Linked DNA regions of Homo sapiens. The protein of the gene in region 2 interacts with the protein of the main gene of each other region in a pairwise test. Each region holds a gene or a part of one and is shown on either strand. Other genes may lie near its edges. The genes, in order: GLP1R and GP2.

The links.
Region 1: the proteins of GP2 (region 2) and GLP1R interact in a protein complementation assay, tested with the Homo sapiens proteins (one study listed by BioGRID).

What each region holds. Positions count from the first base shown.
Region 1 is NC_000006.12:39,055,143-39,058,953, reverse strand, and holds part of GLP1R (glucagon-like peptide 1 receptor precursor), read right to left. Parts: intron 2,558-3,811; coding exon 2,461-2,557; intron 1,483-2,460; coding exon 1,375-1,482; intron 1-1,374.
Region 2 is NC_000016.10:20,324,463-20,329,056, forward strand, and holds the start of GP2 (pancreatic secretory granule membrane major glycoprotein GP2 isoform 2 precursor), read right to left. Parts: upstream 3,052-4,594; 5' UTR 3,005-3,051; intron 2,006-3,004; 5' UTR 1,970-2,005; coding exon 1,876-1,969; intron 1-1,875. UniProt on the Homo sapiens protein: Functions as an intestinal M-cell transcytotic receptor specific for type-I-piliated bacteria that participates in the mucosal immune response toward these bacteria. At the apical membrane of M-cells it binds fimH, a protein of the bacteria type I pilus tip.

The DNA.
Region 1 (3,811 bases), on a different chromosome or scaffold from region 2:
AGAGCATAACCTCATGCCCGCACTTGTTTCTGGGCCAGTTGCTGCTTGGGCTCCAGCCCCTTCAAGGTGTGATGATAGGAGCACGAATTGGATTCAAATCCTGGCTCTGCCATTGACCACATCATTTGGAACAAGTGACTTAAACTTTTTGTGCTTCAGTTTCCTCATCTGTACAGCAGGTATAACCACAGGGTAGTTATAAAGCCCTGCTTTTAGGGCAGGACTTGGCACACAGTAGGTACTCAATAAATGCTGGCTATGATGACGATGATGATGGTGATGGTGATGATGATGATGATGATGATGATGATAGGGAAATATCTTTTCTCCCCTTATGGAGACTGGGAGCTCCTTGCCATGAGGGTGCTTGTCTCCTGTTATCCTCCACGGTGCCTGGGTGAAACTGGGCTCAGCAAGGGAGGCTGGGATAGATAGCGGGGCACATTAACTAACCCTCCAGTCAGGGATCCTCTTGCAGCCTCTGCAAATCTCTGTACCCCCAATGAAATGACCTTCCCACCTACCCAGTCACATCTTCCCCAGTACAAGGTCCCCCTTGCAGGCAGGAGTGAGCTGAGGAGGGCTGAGTCTGGTGGGGTTCGTCACCCCACCAATGCCCTGATCACTTCTCCCAGTGAACCTCTAAAGAGTGAGGAAGTAGCTAAATGTCACTGCCAGGTATGGGCCACCTGCATACACATATCATACATACATGTATACACACAGCAGACACCCTGGGTAGCTTCCCTCCCCGCAAGAGTCTGTCCCCACCCAGCTCTTTTCCTGACTACTGAATTGGAAGGGGTCGCATTTCTCTTCAGACACTTACTTTCCCTTCCCCACACACTGGCCAGCACTGGCCTCACGCCCAGACCCAGGTGGTACCTCAGGCCATCATGAAACTTATCACTACTGACTGCTCCCCTCACCCCAGGAAAGGCAGGCGGACCACTCACTAGGAGGCCTAAAGACATTCTGGGTGGGGAGGGCTGTGTCTCAGAGGAAAGGAAGCAGCGCCTTGACCTCAGCCTCCTCGATACAGGGGACGGTGGGGGAGGGAGCTCACCACTGCTGACCCAGGGCAGGTACCAGGTCAGGGAGGGGGCTCACCACTGCTGACCCACGGCAGGTACCAGGTTAGGGAGGGGGCTCACCACTGCTGACCCACGGCAGGTACCAGGTTAGGGAGGGGGCTCACCACTGCTGGCCCAGGGCAGGTACCAGGTCAGGGAGGGGGCTCACCACTGCTGGCCCAGGGCAGGTATCAGGTCGGGGAGGGGGCTCACCACTGCTGGCCCAGGGCAGATACCAGGTCGGGGAGGGGGTTCACCACTGCTGGCCCAGGGCAGGTACCAGGTCGGGGAGGGGGCTCACCACTGCTGGCCCAGGGCAGGTACCAGGGGCAGCTGACATTCACGAACGAGCCTGGCTCCCCATCTGGCCAGCAGGCGTATTCATCGAAGGTCCGGTTGCAGAACAAGTCTGGGAGCAGAAAGAACAGTCTCTGAGTCCCTGCTTGTGACTGGCCATGGCCCTTTCCCTCCCTTCCCCAAGACCCCTCCCCTCCTCGGAGGCTGCATGCCACTAACCTCTGCTGAATGCTTACTGTATGCCAAGCACTTTCCCCACCCAGCAAGAGCCAAGCAGGGGCACTTGCCACTTATCAGTGGCAGGACCTTGAGCAAGTAACTTAATGTCTGTTTCCTGATCTGTAAAACAGGAGTATTTCCAGCCCCATAGGGTTTTGTGGGATCAAGACTATATGCTACATAGATAATGGAACATAGTACGTGCTCAATGAAAAATCCCTATGGGCCTATTCTTAAATTGCACTTCACAGATTAGAGGGAAATGTTAGCTTACCTTCCTTCTGATCTCACTTAAGATAACCTTCTTTAGGTCACGTGTTATAATTACAGTCAGGATTTCAACCTAGGCCCAGCGGGCTCCAATCCCGTGCTCTTTAAACCACCTTGTGAACTCCCTGAAACATTTATTCCTATAAATATGTTTGTGGAGCCCTCAGTCCATGCACAGGCTGGGAGGTGCTGAGGACAAAAATGGAAAGGCCGGGTGCCTGCTCTGAGAGGCTCTAGCTGGGGGGCTGGCCGGCGGTGCAGGGAAGGACACACAGATAAGACAGCTAAGACAGAAATAAGACAGCAACCCCAAAGCAGACTACAGCAAACGAGTAAGGGCCAAATGATGGCAGAAGTCCTGGGGAAGATTTTCTGGAGGAGGCAGTGCTTCCGCGGACTTTGAAGAAAAGGAAGATTTTGGTCGGCAGAAAGGAAGGTATCCAGGTGAAGGAGTAGCTTGGACAATGAGATGAAGGCAGAGGGCAGGGGTGGCATCCTATAGAGGCAAATGGCTCCCAGCCATGGACATTGAGTTCATCAAAGTCCTCCAGAAGTTGGTTGGGTGGGGAGCACTAAAGGTGGGGAGCCTACATGGACTCACCTGTGGCAGGAGGTGGATCCTCAGTCAGGGAGCGCTGGCACTGGCGTCGGTATTCTCGCCATTTCTGCACCGTCTCCCAGAGGGACACAGTGGCACCCTGGGGGGAGGGCATATATGGGAGGCCTGTGGGTTCAGCCAGCCCCTCTCCTGCCCCCTCACCCCCTAACACACTTGGTTTCTCAATCTCCATGAAACCTCAAAGCCCCAAATTCTGCCAGGCATCAGCCACCTCTGAAAGAGAGTGAGAATAAGTCACTGCCACCCAGGGGCCCCAGGTGGATGGTTTGACATCTTCATTCCTCCCAGGGTGCATAGCTTGATGTGTCACGAGCACCCAGCAAATGTCTGCTAAATTGATGCTTTTGGGGAGGTGGGTGGGTGAAGGAGGAAAGGAGCGTGTGTGTCTCATTTGTGATCTCTGATCTCACTTAGGAGAGAGACTTTCTGAGGGCCCAGGACTCTAAGCTCCTTCTGGCGCCTAGTCAGCCTGCCTGAGGGCTTCTTGCACTTTCAACCATTCTAGAAGAAGACACACAGGCCAGAGTGGGAGAGGAACTGAATCAAGGGTGCACAGCCCCCCCAGGAAGCAGAGTTAAGGCTAGAATCTGGAGTCCTTCAGATCAGTGACCATGGTAGAATATCGCAAGGTGTGCGGGGGCCGGGGAGAGTAGTGGCGTTCAGGGCTACAAAGAGCTGGGATGTCTGCCATTAGCATTCCTCCTCCAAAACGCACTCACTTACAGATGCACTCAACACAGCACCCCCCACCCCCTCCCCGTGCTCCCCTCTGACACAGCAACCAAATCTAATATTCAACCCAGCTTCTATCCACCCAAAGGAAGAGTCCTGAGGACATGAGGTGAAGGGGTCAGGGAGGTTCCAGAACACTGAAGTCACACGTGCAATGGGAGGGATCCCTCTCACCTGTGAGTAGGGAGAGCTGAGCCTCCACTTCCAGTGAGGTCACCGAAATGGCTTTTCAGCACACAGACCCAAACAGACCCATCCCACTGAGAATCCACCATTCCTTCTGAGTGTTTTTGTGCACTTCCTTCAGCTATGTCTTGGGGTTGTCGTTCTTTTTAGTTTTTTCCTGAACAGCCTTAAAAATTATAAATATTCGTCCTTCAGAGGCTGCAGATGCTGAAATGACCCAAGAGCCCCATGTATAAAATGTAGGACCCATACATAATTTAAAACAACATTTTGCTTTTTGAAATCACAAAAATGTCCACGTGTGCTGAAATTAAAATAGCTTCTTTTTAGAAGCTTGCCCCCTTGCCTTGTAGCGTGCTGGGCACATGCTGGATCCAGTCTCGGGTTCTAGCTGGCTTATCACACACCTCCCTGA
Region 2 (4,594 bases):
ATCAGGGCTACCGTCCTGCACAGCCTCCCTCCCTGCCTCAGAGTAACAAAGTTCTTTCCTGTGCATCATGCAAACAGCAGCCTTGTTTGACCAATATTTGTTTTTCTCATTATAAATGTAATACAGGCTCACTGAAAAAGAACCTCAAACATCATTAAAATTAATAAAGCAGAAATGAAAGTTGTCATAAGCCCATCTCATCCCCAGAAGTAACAATAAATTTGTAATATAGCCTTCTTCTTAGGCAAGTTTAAAATATATTGCTTTCTTAAAAATAAAAATAAGTTTAATTCTGTGCAACATCTTTTTTTCCACTTGCATTTTTTACTTAATATAACATAGACATTTTTCCATACCAGTAGCACAGTCTATTGCAAGAACTCCCAACCTTGGCACTATTGACATTTTGGCTAGGTCATTCTTCACTGGAGGAGCCATCCTGTGCATTATAGAATGTTTAGGAGTATCCTTGACCTCTACCTACCAGATCCCACCAGCATGCCCCAAAGTGGTCTCCAGGCATTGCCAAATGTCTTCTTGGGGGGCATCGCCCCCAGTTGAGAACCACTGATCTAACAAGACCATTTCTGATTGTTGATCTACCATTTTTAAAAACAGTTTTAGAAACTGTGATGTATGAAGAGGCAGAGAAGTGAAGGAGGAAGACCACAGGCTGGTCAGGCTGAGTTTAAATCCAATTCTACACCTGCTGGCTGGGTGACCTTGGCAGGTGACTTAAGTCCCCTGAGACTCATTGGCAAAACCACACCTGTGAACCAGTGGTTCTCAAACTTTATCCGTTCCTACGCTTTGGGTCATGACCTTTGTCATACATGTGTTTGCCTGTCCTATTATTGACTTAAAATGTTTCTTTCAATGATTATCTTTTAAGAATTAGTTTCATCTTAAAGAATAATATCTGTGATAACATAGATATCATGTGCTAGTTATATTTTTTAGATGTGCATAAAAAATAAACATACAGCCATTAAAAACTTGTTAAGAGTTTGCCAGGCACCCCCAGAACCATCTTGGAATATATACACCTCATTTGGGGAAAGAAAGCCTTAAACGATTGTTAGAGGATTAAATGTGATAATATGTGTAAAATGCCAAGCACAGCACCAGGGTCAAGCTAATTGTCTTCTCTAGTTCTATTTTGTTGAATGCTGTAGATGCCTGAAGAAGGAGCTAAGTGCACACACAGGATCATGTGCTTACAATACACATTAAAGGGGCTTTCTAAAAAAAAGAGATTTTCAAGCTTTGCACATGCTTATAATACACATTAGAAGGGCCTTTCAGAAAAAAAGATTTTCAAACTTTGCTCATGCATGTACTTATTTTAAGACAAGGAATCACTGCATTTGTTATTCTTAGATTGTATTTTTCCACTGGAGGCCTCCAATGAGCTCAGTACCCTCTCCCACCCTCCTCCAGGGGCTGAAATTTGCACTCTAATTCTAAGCCTGAGACTCCTTTCTGCAAGTATCTGAATTGCCCACTTCATAAAGAGATCACTTAATCTAGCCCTTTCAGGAAAAGGAGAAGGCACTTGCCAGCACAAGGTGACTGAGTTATGTATTTCTTGATCTTCTTTAATCTGGGGTCTCTAATCTCCCAAAGATATGGGCATGGGAAATTATGTTAACTGGCTCCCACTGCCCTTTCAGAGGAATTTCTGATTAGGCTCTTTGAGAGATTGTGACTTGATTTCCATTGTTTCTCATTATGTTTCCCTTGACTTCTAGCTCTGAGTTTTTGCTTTAGAACTGCCAATTCCTCTTCCTTACCTGAGCCACCTTCTCTGCACTTCTATCCTCACTTGCTAGGTCTTCCTTGACATCTGAGATGCCAGGTGAGCAGAATACTTACCTCGCTGCACTGCAGATGCCTGGGTCAGAATGCAGGAGACCAAGGCCAGCCACAGGAGGCCAGAGCCCACCATCCTTTCCATAAGGTGAGGCATGCAGGTCACTTTGCTGTATGCAGACTTCCCATGCAGCTATGGGAAAGAAAAGACCAAGATAAGATTAGGGCATAGGTCTATGTTCTTAGAAACAGATCCGTTGACTTCCTTCATAAAGAGCTGCATTGTTTCAAAGTAGGTGTGACTTATGGACAGATAGAGCGAGATAATGGGTGATAAAATTGACAGTAAGCAAACCAAAGGCAAGCTTAGAGCTGGCTAGTACTGCAGAATGTCCTAGAAAGGTCTCAGGATGGTCCCTGCTCAGGTGGAAGTAGAGGCTCTTTGGAGATTGGATAGAGAAAAAGGGATATGGTACCTGTGAATACCTGCACACAAAAGTAATGGCTGCCCTTTCTTAGTTTTATGCATTGGGTGCTGCTAAGAGCCCCCTGAAATGTCCTCTATGGATGTAGATTTCTGTGACTGTGGAACCATGCCAAACCGAGCCTCATGTTCCTTGCTCCTAGTACAGAATCTGGCACACAAGGAGTACTCAGTAGAGGATTAAGGATGAATAAATAAATCAATGGGGGTTGGGGGCGGTGGCGAGGCAGAAAGAAAGAGCTGCAAAAAAGCCTGCCAGCATTTGGATGGCATTTACTTTTCTGGGAAATACTTTCCCTAAATGGCCAAATCTTTGGATAACTTCCTACAACCTCTGGAAGACTTCAGTGGAAAATAGAGATCGGTTTCGGGCAGGGATACCATGAGTATGCTATGAGACAGCAGGGATAGGGAAGCACCCAGGATTGGTGATTCTTAGAGATGAGATCCCAATAGAGACCTAGTTCCCTGGTGGGAATATCTGGGACAAGGAAGAGGGTGGCGTCCGTAGGCCTGGAGCATCGCAGATGACTGGAAGCATGACTGAGTTGGACATAGAGTGGTACCTGGAGCACTTGACAATGGCCAGGGTCCAAACTACTTGCTGGGTTCTAAAAATTTCCAGAAACAAAGAATCCTAGCATGTCCAGTGGATCAAGATTTCCCAGGATTAGGAGGAAGCCTCCTGGGGCTTAAAGCAGGACTTACCTCCGATGAGAACACAAAGCGTTCCTCCTCTGGCCAGCCATGGGAATGCAGCCTGCTGTGGGCCGTCTTTTTATTGCAATTTCCCACCCATGTGTCTCTCCTCAATTGGTGCACAGGTATGATGGGAGTTCTAGGCCATACACTGGGCTTGTTGAGTGGAGGTGAGATAAGCCATTTACGCAAAGGATGGTGAAAGAAGGGCCCTCCCCTCACAATGTCAACCCTTCCAGCTGTCTCAGCATTGTGCGAATGCTTCCTACAAACAATAGTGCTGTGTGCTGAATGCTGAACATGCTGGGCACTGCTTTGCGTTCTTGACTTCTCACATTTAATCTTCATAATTAATCAATGAAACTGGTGCCATATTTATTACCAGAAACCAAACACGAATTGAAAGGAAGCTTAATACCCAAAGGGAAGTGAAGAGAAAATCAAACAGGCACTTGTTTGCACAATGGATTTTCAGTTGTACCTTGTGTTCCTAGCTAATCATCTTGGAACATTTCTGCTTCTGTCTGAAGGCCACTGAGCTTGGGGCCAGTTAGACTAAGAGGACACATAGGAAAGGAAAGAAGGGAGTGTGGATGTTTCGAAAAATTCCATTTATTGGTCCATAGAATCTACCCAACTCCGGATTTCTAATGCTGAGCAGTTTTGGAATGGCTAATTTGGTGATGATGGATTTTGGAATGGCAAAGGACAGACAAAGGTTCTTGGACAAAAGAAGCACCAGAGTAGCCCCTGTAAATCCCTTTTGATATGTAGGCTGCCCTAGAGATTGGAAGGCATGAGACTGAGAAGAGGCTGTAGAGGATCTTGGACTTATTAACTCCAGGCTTGGACCTGGCTTTCATGACATGGTAGAAATCATGGACTTCATAAAAGAGCCAAAGCTTTTGCAGAAAAAATGGCCACTGCTTCTTCTCTGTCACTCTGGGACTCCTTAAGGAGCCAAGGCAACTGGAGTCAAGGGAGCAGGAGGGTCTTGGCATTGGTAACACCTTCTACAAAACCTCAACCTGGAAAAAGAAAAGGTGCTACAAGCCACCTTCTCTACTCCCAGAGCAACTGGAGAATAAATAGTCTCTAAAATGTGGAACTTGTGACAACTGGGCCCACTAAATCACCTACTGATCCATTCAGTCTGGCCAGGTGCCCATCCCAGTCTCCCCAGTGGCCACTCTTAACCTTCCCATTCCTCTTAAATGGTCTCTGCAGCTATTATCACCCACTCACACCACCTTTCTCAGCAGATATCTGGTACCCTACTTCAAAAACAATTTAGGCCACAACACCTGACCTTGCTCCTTCCCCTGTAAACATATAAATACTGGTCTCCATCCTCCACCCCTTCCCCCTCCAACTTCTGATAAGGCGATGTTCCTCCTTTTCAAAGTCAGTTCCTCCATCCCTCTTCTGGCTTCTCCATTCCAATCTGAACCATGTAGCTACAACTTTATAGCCAAATCCACTGGGTAGTTTGTTTCTGCTCCTTTGTGATTGGATTTGCCTACTGCTTGTTCCGGGTACCTTGCATTTCCTTGACTCCGCATGTTCATATTTTCTTGATTCTCCTGTTTCTACCTGGAG